Linked DNA regions of Homo sapiens. Each later gene encodes a partner of the first gene's protein in a complex. Each region holds a gene or a part of one and is shown on either strand. Other genes may lie near its edges.

Evidence for each region. Proteins that work in one complex are often made in the same cells at the same time.
Region 2: the proteins of BMP10 (region 1) and BMPR2 are in contact, whole or in part, in a crystal structure (PDB 7PPA), measured with the Homo sapiens proteins. Residues at the interface, in NP_055297.1 of Homo sapiens: Tyr329, Lys333, Asp338, Ser339, Trp340, Ile342, Ala343, Pro344, Pro345, Gly346, Tyr347, Glu348, Glu395, Pro396, Ile397, Ser398, Ile399, Leu400, Leu402, Val407, Tyr409, Phe411, Ala417; in NP_001195.2 of Homo sapiens: Asp38, Ser64, Tyr67, Leu69, Lys81, Cys84, Trp85, Ser86, Ile88, Gly89, Asp90, Pro91, Gln92, Glu93, Thr103, Thr104, Pro105, Pro106, Ile108, Tyr113, Phe115.

Annotation. Positions count from the first base shown.
Region 1 is NC_000002.12:68,868,303-68,875,283, forward strand, and holds the start of BMP10 (bone morphogenetic protein 10 preproprotein), read right to left. Parts: upstream 3,096-6,981; 5' UTR 3,057-3,095; coding exon 2,723-3,056; intron 1-2,722. UniProt on the Homo sapiens protein: Required for maintaining the proliferative activity of embryonic cardiomyocytes by preventing premature activation of the negative cell cycle regulator CDKN1C/p57KIP and maintaining the required expression levels of cardiogenic factors such as MEF2C and NKX2-5.
Region 2 is NC_000002.12:202,512,327-202,519,326, forward strand, and holds part of BMPR2 (bone morphogenetic protein receptor type-2 precursor), read left to right. Parts: intron 1-1,392; coding exon 1,393-1,503; intron 1,504-2,561; coding exon 2,562-2,653; intron 2,654-6,495; coding exon 6,496-6,726; intron 6,727-7,000. UniProt on the Homo sapiens protein: On ligand binding, forms a receptor complex consisting of two type II and two type I transmembrane serine/threonine kinases.

The DNA of each region.
Region 1 (6,981 bases):
TATCCAGCTCTGACATCTCCTATAAAAGCCTCCCTTACTTCTCATCTGAAAGTTCCCTCCTCTCCCCTCTGAAATCATTTGATCACTTTATATCTCCTTTGATCCTTGTCATTTACGTCCTTATATTTCAGCCATCTTTTTATGAATGGATTTTCCCAACTAGATTGCCATCCTCCTGGTTTGAATGGCTCAAAACTCCCTTCTATGTCTCTATCCTACTATGATGGCTTAAACAGAGGTAGTGCTTTAAAAATATTGATTAGTTGATGATTCTAGGCACCAGACTAAATTGATTTATGGGCGTGACATATGACCTTAATCCATCATCAAGCTCTTGGGTTGGGCTTGGGAGTTATTCTTCCACTCTAAGAAGGGAAGAGACTTGACTCCCCATGGACAGGGAACATGGAAGAGTAGGCTGGTTGCTCTACCCAGGAGAAAAGTATAAAATAAGAGCTCACTGTAGTGGGAGGAAGGCATTACAAAGTATACAAGGAAGCTTTTGGTTTTAATGGATATATTCATGATCTTGATTGTGGTGATGGTTTCAATGAATGTTACATATGTCAACACCTTTCAAATTATACACTTTAAATATGTGCGATTATACTTTTATACATCAATATTTTTATATGTCATATTTTTATAAGTCAAATATACCTCAATAAAGCTGTTTTGAAAAAGTAAGTTCACTGTGAAGTTCTGTGCATGTGCAAATGCAGTAAGCAATAGATGGAAGAGTTACATTTCAGGGCAAGAGAACGAATGTTTGTTGACAAATTTCTCATGCCAGGTGCTTTGCAAGCATGATCTTCTCTGGTTCTCACAATGACCCCATAATGCAGGTATTGATTCTCTACTCGTTTTGCACCAGAATAAATCAAGCCTTGATGCAGATAACTGATTTCCCCAAATGACAAGGTGATAAAGGAGCACGCTTTTTTCACCTTGGAGGTGGCACTTTTTTTTCCCAAGATGGGGTAGGTTTGGAGTTTTTTTGGTCTTTCTCTCCTAGGGAGCTGCACTAAGCAGATCCAAAGAGTCAGAAGAGAGGCAATAGTAGCCAACAGGGCATGTCCTGTGCGATTTCTGTCCTCAGGCTGCACATTTCCTGCAGACTGGCAGAGGTGCTGGCGGCTGGGTTGTTTACTAAGAGATGTGTTCCTGCCCTCAATAATCTCCAGTAATAATAAGCACAGTAAACTCCACATCCTGACCTGGATCATCCAGATACTCTATGAGAGAAGTGAGAACGGAAAACGTTTCTAGTTTTCCAGGGGATGCAAACAACATTTTCTCACCCACACCCTGAGCCAGACACTTAGGGCTCAGTGCTGAGAAGTATTAGGGAGGGTTCTTACAGGAGGAAGTTGTTCATTTTCAATTCAGACTCACCTCCAAAAGCAATCTGTAATCTCAACTTGCCATTTCCATGAGAAAGATATTATGAATTATAAATTTTGGCAGCCAACTCAATTTTAAAGGGAGATAATATCTTAGGGACTAAGGAATACCTACTCAACATTTATTCCAGTACCTAGAATATTAAGTAACTCATTAGTAGTCACTAAAGTTTGATCAGCACTTCATAGTAAATGGAGTGCTTTCTTATCTGTAACCTCCTTTGAGTCACTCAACTATGTTATGTAGGTATTATTACTCCCACTTTATAGATGAGGAAATTGAGGCTCTGAGGCATCAGCTAATTATTCACAACCACTAAGCCAACTAGCTCTCAAAATCCCAAATCCTGAGCTATTTCTTCACTATTACCTTTCTTCTTTCAAGAACATCTGGCCAATATTAACGGGAAGCTTCTTTTATACCTGGTTAGTGACTATAAAAGCATAACTGGCAAAAATTAAATTAGTTCCTTTGGACCTTCAGCTTCTACTATAGATATCTAGATATCAGGGGTTTTTTTTCCTACTAGGACCATATTAACCAAAAAACAAACAAACAAACAAACAAACAAAAACATTAACTTGCTAGCTCATTAGATTTAGTTACCAAATTTAAAGACCTAAGAGAAGAAAACACACTTTTCCCACCAATAATTCAAAGCTTGTACGTTGCTCTTTATAAAGACGGAAATGATGAGCTGGATGATTAATGGGCCATCTACACTTCCTGGAAACTGTAAACAGTGCTTTAAGGATGTACATGACACATCAAACAACACAGCCTTAGGAAGAATCTTTAAAATATATTTCCATCCTGTTTGAACATTTCTTAAATAAGGTCACAAAATAAAAACTTATCAAAAGTTTGAACAAAACACAAATCACAATTTGATGTTTTTTGACTGTTTTTACCCTTTTTATTCTAAGTAGAAGTTGAGAAATTTTTTAGTTAATTAAAAGCCCATATGGCAATCAAGGCCTATTTGGAAAATGACAAAGGTACGGCAGTAGACCAACATTAATTCTTTGTATTACTTGGTGTTCAAATTAACATTTTTTAAAAGGACCCAATTATGATGTCAAATTGATAGATGTTTTGTGGCTTTGGATTAAAAGATGTTTGTAAGTATTTTTCGAGGTTCCTGAAATGACTATATAATTGGTATAGAACAAAATGTGCCTTGTTTTTGTGTATCCATATGTATTTAACATCCTTATATAGATGTATTTACCCTTACCTATATCATTCCCATGCATTGTAAATTTACTTATTGTGTCTTGAAAAAAATCCTAGCAAAATTTCATCAGCAAAAACTTACCTTCATTCTTGAAACTCCTAATGATGTTGGCAGAGGGCATGGAGGTCCGATCTGTTGCAAATTTGTTGTAGAGTTCCAACATGTACTCTGGTGGGTCCACCTTGGCTGAATCCTGCGTGGGGATGTCAGAGAGGTTTAGTGTCTTAAGAAACTCATCCTTCATGCTCTGGAGCAGTGTGTTAAAGTCGACACCGTCTTGCTCTGAGAAAACATCACCAAAGAGGGACATATCTTCTTCCAGAGGAGACTGCTCTAGGTTCATGATGGGGCTGCCAGAAACCAAGTAAGCTGCCAGGCAGAAAAGAGCGCACAGTGTCAGGACCAGAGAGCCCATGACTCCGCTCGAGCTCCTAGGCCAAGCCAGGAAGGTTTAGCTTCCCTGGGCTCTAAGTGGCAGTTTTATCTTGTGGAACGTAAATGTCTCCTGTCACTGGAGACAAGTTTGGAAACTCTTCCTCTCTCTCTCCCTCCCCCTACCACTCTTCCTCTCCCCCTAAAAGTCAGGTTGCAGTAATTGGATAACAAAATCCCCTATAGGGGCCTAGCCTTTCTTATCTCCCTAGTGTAAACTTGTGCACCAGAATTTGTTTCTATCTTGCAATCCCTATTTCTTTTAATGAGCATTTTGTAAACATTTCCACATTCTGACACTGGTTGAGAGATAGGACAATTTTCTCTTTGCAAAGGCTCTGCTTCTCTTCCCTTCAATTCACTTCCTTTCAGCAGGAATGCCTAAATTCTGTTTTTATGGGGCTTAGTTTCACACATGCATATAATAGGTATAAGAATCAACATAATGCACATCAATGGTGATACATGTTAATTTGAGAGGTAGGGCTCAGATAAACACTTGTGAAGACAGACCAAATATCCAAACTTTCCAAGTTTAAGTTAATAGCTATAAATGAATTATATAAATTTTTAGAAGTGTACCTTTTTAGAAACAGGAAAGTATAAACTTCATGATTGACAGGCTTTTTCCTACCTATTTGATCTGGCTAAAATAGCATTTGAAAAATAGGGCAAGTGCTTAGTTATACTGGCAACTAGAATTTATTAGATGCTTCCTACAAACAGGCATTGTACTGAGTGCTTTACACCTATCATCAAGTGTGCTCCTGTAATAACCGTATCATTATCTCCATCACATATATGGGTCAGTGAAGTGCCATAGCTTGCCAGAGGCCACAAAGTTGCAAAGTGATGGGGCCACAATTTCAACCAAGGCAGCCTGATTCTTATGAAGAATAAAACAGTCACACTTTTAAACCACTCTTCTACCAGACTAGGGCATGGGCAATAATGCTGAGAGGCCAACACGTCCCCAGATCAGCCTGGAGGCAGGAGGCAGGCAGAAATTTGTAGCTGGATGTGGACCTCAGGTCCTCCATCTGTGCAATGAGTTGTTAATATAACCAACATCTCTGCGAAATTCATCCTTCTGACTCAATCAAAATTGTCATCAAGAGGCTCCAGCAAAAGCTTGGTGTGATGGTTAATACTTACTGTCAACTTGATTGGATTGCAGGATGCAAAGTATTGATCCCGGGTGTGTCTGTGAGGGTGTTGCCAAAGGAGATTAACATTTGAATCAGTGGGCTGGGAAAGGTAGACCCACCCTTAATCTAGCTAGGCACCATCTAATCAGCCGCCAGCACGGTTAGAATATAAAGCAGGCAGAAAAACGTGAAAAGACGAGACTGGCCTAGACTTTCAGCCTATCTTTCTCCCATGCTGGATGCTTCCTGTCCTTGAATATGGGACTCCAAGTTCTTCAGTCGGGGAACTTGGACTGGCTCTCCTCGATCCTTAGCTTGCAGACAGCCTATTGTGGGACCTTGTGATCGTGTGAGTTAATACTTAATAAACTCAGAAATATATCTCCATCCCCTATTAGTTCTGTCCCTCTAGAGAACCCTGACTAATACACTCGGCAAACAACATTACTAGGCACACAAAAAACGCCAAATGCCTTGGTCCTGAAAATAAAAATGGTAGAATCGATTGTGTGTCCAGATTAGGAAAGACAAATCAGGTTCATCACATTTTCCATTCTAACTAGTGACAGTAGCAGCCGGGGTGCAGCCAGAGAGGCCCTGCGGACAAGCCCAGGGGATGTTTTTCCCACTGAGGTGGTAGTTCTGGTATCTTTCTGACGTGCACACCATTACTCACGCGTCCTGGTGCTGTGTTCCAAGGGCTGTGTCAAGATATTTGGTTCACTGGAATCCTTTCTCAGTTTCTAGGTTAAATTTTCCTATATTCATGCTCATCGTTTAGCTACAATGTCTCCACTTAACTTTTTCTCCAGGCTCACTTAGGTTTCTAGTCATCTTTTGATTCTTTTTCCTCCTAAAATGTACAATGTTACAGCCATTTTTTAAATTACCATAGAAAGAACCATATTTTGTTTAGTAGTTGTTAATTGTCTATTTGTTTAATAGTTTTGATTTTGATTCAATGTTCAATTTTGATTCAAACTTTCTATTCCCATAGTAAAACGACAATTGTAGACTGGAGACAGATTATACCCTGAACAGTCCCACAAGTGAGTGAGTGACTCCAAGGGCCAGAAGCCGTCCTTCGGGTGGTTCGTTTTCACATGAGGTTTCTGACAGCATACCAGCAATGCCCTGTATCATGTCCTGCATCCAAACAGGCACCCATTTATCTTCACACACACACAGATGTCAACGCACACTCCAAAACTCTGAATGCAGGCATGTGCGTGTAACTGCCACAGGACAGCAGTGTAAGTGGTGGTACTTACAACCCCTGAGCACACTGGTTTCAAAGGTCACGGGGAGAGACATGCATCCCACATTGCGGAGTTCTAGTTCTTTACATTCTTGAGCATAAAAACATTAACTGAGACTTCACTGGCTTCCCTGTACTTGGTGTTAGAAAAACTACAGGGTCAAATATTTGGATCCATGTTGATATTTGGGGATGATTAAAAGATACAGTAGGAAAATGACTATAGCCATATTTCAGACATTTCAAGATATCAGCGTGTCTTGAGACGCATGCTTGGTGAAGGTTCTTAAACCCATACCTGTGCTGGGTGGACAAGGAAGGAGGTTGGCTTCATGCTTGGAGGAAGGGGACATAAGCTCTCTCCCTCTTCCAGGCCTGGGACACCTCACATCTTAGCTGCAGAGTCTCTTTATCCCCATATTTTTCTCTAGAAGCTTTTTCTGATGACTCTCATCTGACCCTAAAAGGTCCAAATGTCTTTACATTCCTACCCCTATTTTGATCTTTCTGGATGCAATTCATTCTATTCTTTTGCACTTATCTCATTATTTTGTATCCTTCTCATTTGGAATGTGTTACGGTTCATTCAGAGTGGATGGGCAGTTTCGTGAGCCAAAGATGTAAAAGGTATGTTTAGATGTTTTAAAAGAACCCATACATGTGGAAAGCAAAATATTAATTACACATTATGCTTTTCCACCCCACTGCAAAATGCTCCAGAACCTCTGATTTGCAAAGTTCTGGGCCAGTTTTTAAAACTAGTTCCATAACTGTACAAACTTAAAGAATCTAACATTGAACTTCATTGGATTCTCAAAGGGATCTGGGATCCAGACATGGTCAGAGCCACTGGACAGCATCCTGATGAATTCTGCTGTTTCCTGTGAGTAGTGCACAGCCCCTGAATAAATGCAACCAATAAAATTATCCTGAATGAAAAGAGGCCAATGAAGTCAGGAGGTCTTTGAACATGACTCTAGGTTCTTGGAACCCTCTCTACCTTGGATCCCACTTCAGAAGCATTACATTACTCCTGCTACCTTCTCAGGACCAGGTGTGATAATAAAAAAAAAATTTAACAAGCTATACGATGGGTTTTGCCCATTTAACTTATATATGAATTGAATCATGTTATATGTTTTCTTCCAAGACTTACTTTTTTGCACTCAACAGGATTTTTCCAATGCACACTTGTTGATGCCTGTAGCTGAGTTCATTGATTTTCACTGAATTGTTGTCAGCTTTATAAATACATAAAAATTTCTTTGTACGTTATACTGTTGATAGAGACTTTGTTTCTTTTTTTCTCATTATTTACAGTACTACAGTGAATAATCTTACTGTTATTTTCTATTTAAGAGATTCTCGGCCAGGTGCGGTGGGTCACGCCTGTAATCTCAGCACTTTGGGAGACCGAGGTGGACGGATCACGAGGTCAGGAGCTCGAGACCAGCCTGACCAACATGGTGAAACCCCGTCTCTACTAAAATACAAAAATTAGC
Region 2 (7,000 bases), about 130 Mb from region 1:
CAGTATTACCAAACATTGCATAACTACATCTAGTTAAACAATGAACAGCTCTTTCATAGGGCAACTCATTCTGTTTTAGACAGGTCTGTTTATAAGCCATGCTTTTCTGTATGCTCAACTAAAGGCTCTTATCCTTGAAGATACACTGATTGGAACTGGTTATTTGATGTGAAGACAGCTATCATATCCTCCCAAGTTTTCTTTTTTTTCCTCATCAGATGCTTTCAGTTCTTTCTACCCATCACAGTTCAGAGGTCTCAAACCTTCATAGTTGTACTTGCTCTCTTTTGGATATGCTCTAGTTTGTGGCCATCCATCCTAAAGGGTATTTGCTCTAGATGCGATCTGACCCACAGAATGGAACTTAACACATAAAATGTTTACATGTTTGTGATAGCCCTGTGATTTACCTATGTGTGTTCCCATTCCATTCTGCAAGTGAGTAAACTTGGGCTCAGATAGGAGAAGAAACTTTCCTAAGGTCATATGTTAAGTGGAAGAAGTGAGCTTCAAGTCCTATTCAGATTTAACTGCCTCCAAAGCCATGCTATTTTCATTAATAAAAATACCAATATTGATAAGTGTAACTACCATTTATTGCGTAGATAATATATGCTTTTTTAAAAAAAAACTTTAATTTTTTTTTTTTTTTTAAAGAAACAGAGTCTCACTTCATCACCCAAGCTGGAGTACAGTGATACAATCATGGCTCACTGCAGCCTCAAACTCCTGGGCCCAAGCAATCCTCCTGCCATAGCCCCCTGAGTAGCTGGGACTACAGGTGCATGCCACCATGCCTGACTAATTTTTTTTTTTAATTTGTTTTAATGTCTGGCATTTTGCTATGTTGTCCAGGCTGGCCTTGACCTTGTGGCCTCAAGTGATCCTCCTGCAGCAGCCTCCCAAAGTGTTGGGATTATAGGCATGAGCCACTGTGCCCAGCCAGATAATATATTCTTGACGTTGTGTTAAGTACTTAGACTACCATCTAAATCTTACAGCTAACTTGGGAAATACAGAGTACTATTTTTATAAATGAGGAAATTGAGGATTTAAAACCAAATGTGATTCTAAAACTGTTAGATTCTAAGACTCTTGATATTATACTATCCTGTCTAATCTGTTTCATGGTATTGTTGATGTTTTAATAATTAGGAGCACATCTACTTGGTGTTTTAGTGTTCCAAATCTATACAGAATAGTCTGTATGATTAAAAAATATAATTTGTAATTATCACATTTATTACTAATTTTTTCTTTCATTTCCTTTGATGCAAAAACATTACTAATTTGATTATACATGGGTACAGCCTTTCTAAAGGGCAGTCTGTCAGTATTTAACAAAATACTTTTTTAAAAAAAAATGACATTTCAAAATTTGTTTTCTTTTAGGTCCACCTCATTCATTTAACCGAGATGAGACAATAATCATTGCTTTGGCATCAGTCTCTGTATTAGCTGTTTTGATAGTTGCCTTATGCTTTGGATACAGAATGTTGACAGGTAAAAATTACCATTTTTTGTCCTATTGTTTATTAAACATGCAATTTAATCAATTTATTTGCTCCTTTTAAATTCCGTATGTTAAAAAAAATAGTCTCAAAGTTATGCAAAATACACCCAGCCTCAATAGTATCACGTATGGACAGTATTGTTTCATTTAAATTATCAGTCACTACCCCTTTCCATGCCACTGGATTATTTTGAAGCAAATCACAGATATCATATATCTGTAAATATTTAATTAGATATTATATATCTATAAATATTATCTCTACAATACAAGAGCTTTTTTTAAAATTTATTTTATTTTATTTTATTTTATTTTTGAGACGGAGTCTCGCTGTCGCCCAGGTTGGAGTGCAGTGGCGCGATCTCGGCTCACTGCAGGCTCCGCCCCCCAGGGTTCACGCCATTCTCCTGCCTCAGCCTCCTGAGTAGCTGGGACTACAGGTGCCCACCTCCTCGCCCGGCTAATTTTTTGTATTTTTAGTAGAGACGGGGTTTCACCGTGTTAGCCAGGATGGTCTCGATCTCCTGACCTCGTGATCCGCCCGCCTTGGCCTCCCAAAGTGCTGGGATTACAGGCGTGAGCCACTGCGTCCGGCCAATACAAGAGCTTTAAGAATACATATCCATAATACCATTTTCACATCTGAAAAAATAACAGTAATTCCTCAGTATCATCAAATGTCAAGTTGGTTCTAATATACTTTAGGTTTGATGGACTGTTTAGGAAATCAGCGTTCATTGATTCATTTGAATAACTTCTATACAATCTTCTTTAAAGTTTTTATAATATTGCTTAGGGTTTTAAACTTTTAAAGTAAGTCATCATGGGAGTGTCTCCCAGAATTTGGCTTTCATGCTATTCTGCATTCATCTTAATTTATAGGTATTACCTAGTTTAGTAAATAGCTTTACTCCTATTGACATTAGGCATAAATCTTGCTGCTAATCTTTCTGCAGCTCTTCTTTTTAAGTGTAATATTATAAAAAGTGTAAAAAGATATTCATTTTAAGAAAACCATATATTAGTAACCTGTTTCCTGTTCTTATAGGAGACCGTAAACAAGGTCTTCACAGTATGAACATGATGGAGGCAGCAGCATCCGAACCCTCTCTTGATCTAGATAATCTGAAACTGTTGGAGGTAAGTTTGCCGTTAGATTATGGACTGTTGTTTCTACTGTGATACTAGACCTGGAACAGTGACTTCATTCAATCATTAAGACATTCATTCATTTATTTAACCCTATTTACTAAATTACAATTTTTTGTCAAGGCCTATTCTAGGCACTAGGAACATAGGTGAACAATGTCTCCTGGGGCTTCTATTTGAATTGGGGAGTCTACAGACAGGTACAGGAATGTATAATATAATTGCAAGTAGTAGTAAGTGCTATGAAGAAAAGTACAGTGGATAAGAAAGTGATGAAAAGGGGGTTATTAAAGAAAATATGGGCCAGGCGCAGTGGCTCATGCCTGTAATCCCAGTACTTTGGGAGGTTGAAGCTGGTGGATCACCTGAGATCAGGAGTTCAAGACCAGCCTGACCAACATGAAGAAACCCTGTCTCTGCTAAAAATACAAAATTAGCCAGGCATGGTGGTTCATGCCTGTAATCCCAGCTACTCAGGAGGCTGAGGCAGGAGAATTGCTTGAACCCGGGAGGCAGAGGTTGCGGTGAGCCGAGATCGCACCATTGCACTCTAGCCTGGGCAACAAGAGCGAAACTCTGCCACAAAAAAAAAAAAAAGAAAGAAAGAAAAAGAAAATATGGCCAGGTGCAGTGGCTCACGCCTGTAATCCTATCACTTTGGGAGGCTGAGGCAGGGGGATCACTTGAGGTCAGGAGTTCAAGACCAGCCTGGCCAACATGGTGAAACCCTATCTCTACTAAAATACAAAAATTAACTGGGAGTGGTGGCGCCCGCCTGTAGTCCCAGCTGCTTGGGAGGCTGAGGCTAGCGAATTGCTTGAACCCAGAAGGTGGAGGTTGCAATGAGCCAAGATCACGCCACTGCACTCTAGGTGACAGAGCAGGAATCCGTCTCAAAAAATAAAAAAGAAAAAGAAAATATATTTAGAAAGAGGTTGACCTTTGATTAGAGATTTGTACAGGGTATGAGAATAAAGACATGAAAGTTTGAGAAGAGTGTGCCACAAGGGATCCATAATAGACAACAAATAAATACTCCTTGTCTGCATATATTACATATTTTTATAGATACATAAGGCTCTTTTATATAGAATTTAAGTTTCATTTGGTGATATCTCAGAAGCTACATTAAAAGTGTTACCATGATGAGTGTTTTTATATTTATTAAGAATGACTTGAAAACTATGGTCCCCAAACCAGAGACTATTAAATAATAGATGTGATAGATTTGACTATATAAAAAATTGTAAGAACTTTCTGTTTTGGGAGAGACATACCATAAACAAAGATAAAAGCCAAATTTGAAAAATAAATTTCAACATTTCAACATATAAGGGAAAACTTGATAAAGAACTGATATAAATCAAGATGAAAGAAACATTCTATAGCAAATGGACAAAAAGGCTGAGTGCTGTGACTCACACCTGTAATCCCAGCTCTTTTGGGAGGCCAAAGTGGGTGGATTGCTTGAGCCCAGGAGTTCAAGACAAGTCATGGGCAACATGGTGAAACCCCATTTATTTTGTAAAAAATACAAAAATTAGCTGGGTGTGGTGGCACATGCCTGTAGTCCCAGCTACTCGGGAGGCTGAGGTTGAAGGATCACTTGAGCCCAAGAGGTAGAGGTTGTGGTTAGCCTAGGTGACAGAGACCCTGTCTCAAAAAAAAAAGGACAAAAGGTATTAACTGCCAATTCACAAAAGAAGTAAGTGTGGCTAAGAAATGTACAGTAAGATGTCCAATTTACAAGGCTGAAAGAAATACTAGTTAACCCATGGAATTTTAGCCATGATTAAGTGATAGAAACACTTCCAAACATTGCTGAATTAACTATATATTGATATAACCTTTTTAAAGGACACTTTGTATAATTTTGATCTGGAAACAGTGTATGAAACACAACATATATCCTTAAATAAATGATGGTAAATCCCCAACCTGTTTTAATAAAAAGTAAAAGCAATCCCCAGAAGCCAAAAATAACGAGAATGGGTTACATTTTGCTGGTTCTTTGGGTGTTGAGTAATTTTTTTGTATTCTGGATATTGTGAATATTGTATTGTGGAACACTGAACTCAAAAATTAGCTGGGTATCATGGCACGCGCCTGTAATCCTAGCTACTCAGGAGGCTGAGGCAGGAGAATCACTTGAACCCGGGAAACGGAGGTTGCAGTGAGCTGAGACCGTGCCACTGCACTCCAGCCTGAGTGAAAGAGCAAGACTATCTCAATTAAAAAAAAAAAAAAAGATTTTTTTTTGTTGTTTTAGTAAGCAATAAACTTGGTTGAACACATACCACAAATCTGTTTGGGGCAGAAGCTCAAATCTCAGTTCAGTTATTTTATCTTTTTTTTTTTTTTTTTACTCTGTCATCCAGGCTGGAGTGCAAGGCATGGTCTGGGGTCACCGCAACCTCTGCCTCCCGGTTTCAAGTGATTCTCCAGCCTCAGCCTCTATGTAGGGATCTTTATGCAAGTATTTAAGTCTCCACAAAAGTGACTACAGGCGCATGCCACCACGCCCAGCTAATTTTTGTATTTCTAGTAGAGATGGGGTTTTACTGTGTTGGCCAGGCTGGTCTCAAACTCCTGACCTCGTGATCCACCCGCCTCAGCCTCCCAAAGTGCTGGGATTACAGGCGTGAGCCACCACGCCCGGCCTCAGTTATTTTATCTTTAGCTGGAAACTCTCTTGTATATTCACTGGGCTTTCCTCTCTCTGAATTTCTCCTTTCTAGGGTTCTCCCCTCATTTTCTAGCAACTGTGGCTGTCCAAAATATGTCCTGAGTTTCCCAAGGCCAGAACAATTTTCTGTTCTTCTTTTTTCTTTTTTTTTTTTTTGAGACGGAGTCTCACTCGGTCACCCAGTCTGGAGTGCAGTGGCGCGACCTCGGCTCACTGCAAGCTCTGCCTCCCAGGTTCACGCCATTCTCCTGCCTCAGCCTCCTGAGTAAGTGGGACTACAGGCGCCCACCACCACGCCTGACTTTTTTTTTTTTTTTTTTTTTGTATTTTTTTAGTAGAGATGGGGTTTTACCGTGTTAGCCAGGATGGTCTCGATCTCCTGACCTCATGATCCACCCACCTCAGCCTCCCAAAGGGCTGGGATTACAGGCGTGAGCCACCGCGCCTGGCCTCTTTTTTTTTTTTTTTTTTTTTTTTTTAATTGAGACAGTCTTGCTCTTTCGCCCAGGCTGGAGTGCAGTGGCGCGGTCTCAGCTCACTGCAACCTCCGTTTCCTGGGTTCAAGTGATTCTCCTGCCTCAGCCTCCTGAGTAGCTAGGATTACAGGCGTGTGCCATGATACCCGGCTAATTTTTGTATTTTTAGTAGAGACAGGGTTTCACCACTTTGGCCAGGCTGGTCTCGAACTCCTGACCTCAAGTGATCTGCCCACCTCAGCCTCCCAAAGTGCTGAGATTACAGGCATGAGCCACCACACCCAGCCTAGAATGGTTTTCTTTAGCAATTTTAGTTCCACTGCACAGTGCTGATTTCAGCCTGCCCTCAGGATAAAAGTCATAAAAATGGGTAGCTTGCCCCATACCACTTTTTTCTCAAAGCTTTAATGCCTCTCAAGATCTATCTGCCTTTAGATCTTTCTTTTTTTTAAATTTTGTCCAGCATTTATAAATGTTCTCTATGGGCAGGCTGGGTCTGGTAGGAGCTTCATCAGCCATACTAGAACAGAATTTATTAATTTCTTGATAATGGAATAAACTGTAAGCAACAGAGAGCTGTAGCATTCTGTTTAAATTTGTACTTTATTATTTAGTAAATTTGATTGTTCAATTGTGATATTAATACCTTGCTTTCTTTAAAACACTTGCAGCTGATTGGCCGAGGTCGATATGGAGCAGTATATAAAGGCTCCTTGGATGAGCGTCCAGTTGCTGTAAAAGTGTTTTCCTTTGCAAACCGTCAGAATTTTATCAACGAAAAGAACATTTACAGAGTGCCTTTGATGGAACATGACAACATTGCCCGCTTTATAGTTGGAGATGAGAGAGTCACTGCAGATGGACGCATGGAATATTTGCTTGTGATGGAGTACTATCCCAATGTAAGTTCTTCATAGAAAATAAACTGAGGCCAGGTGTGGTGGCTTATGCCTGTAATCCCAGCACTTTTGGAGGCTAAGGCAGGTGGATCACTTGAGGCCAAGAGTTCAGGACCAGCCTCGCCAACATGGCAAAACTCCCGTCTCTACTAAAAATACAAAAATTAGCCGGGTATGATGGCACACATCTGTAATTCCAGCTACTTGGGAGGCTGAGGCATGAGAATTGCTTGAACCCGGTAGGCGGAGGTTGCAGGGAGCCGAGATTGTACAGCCG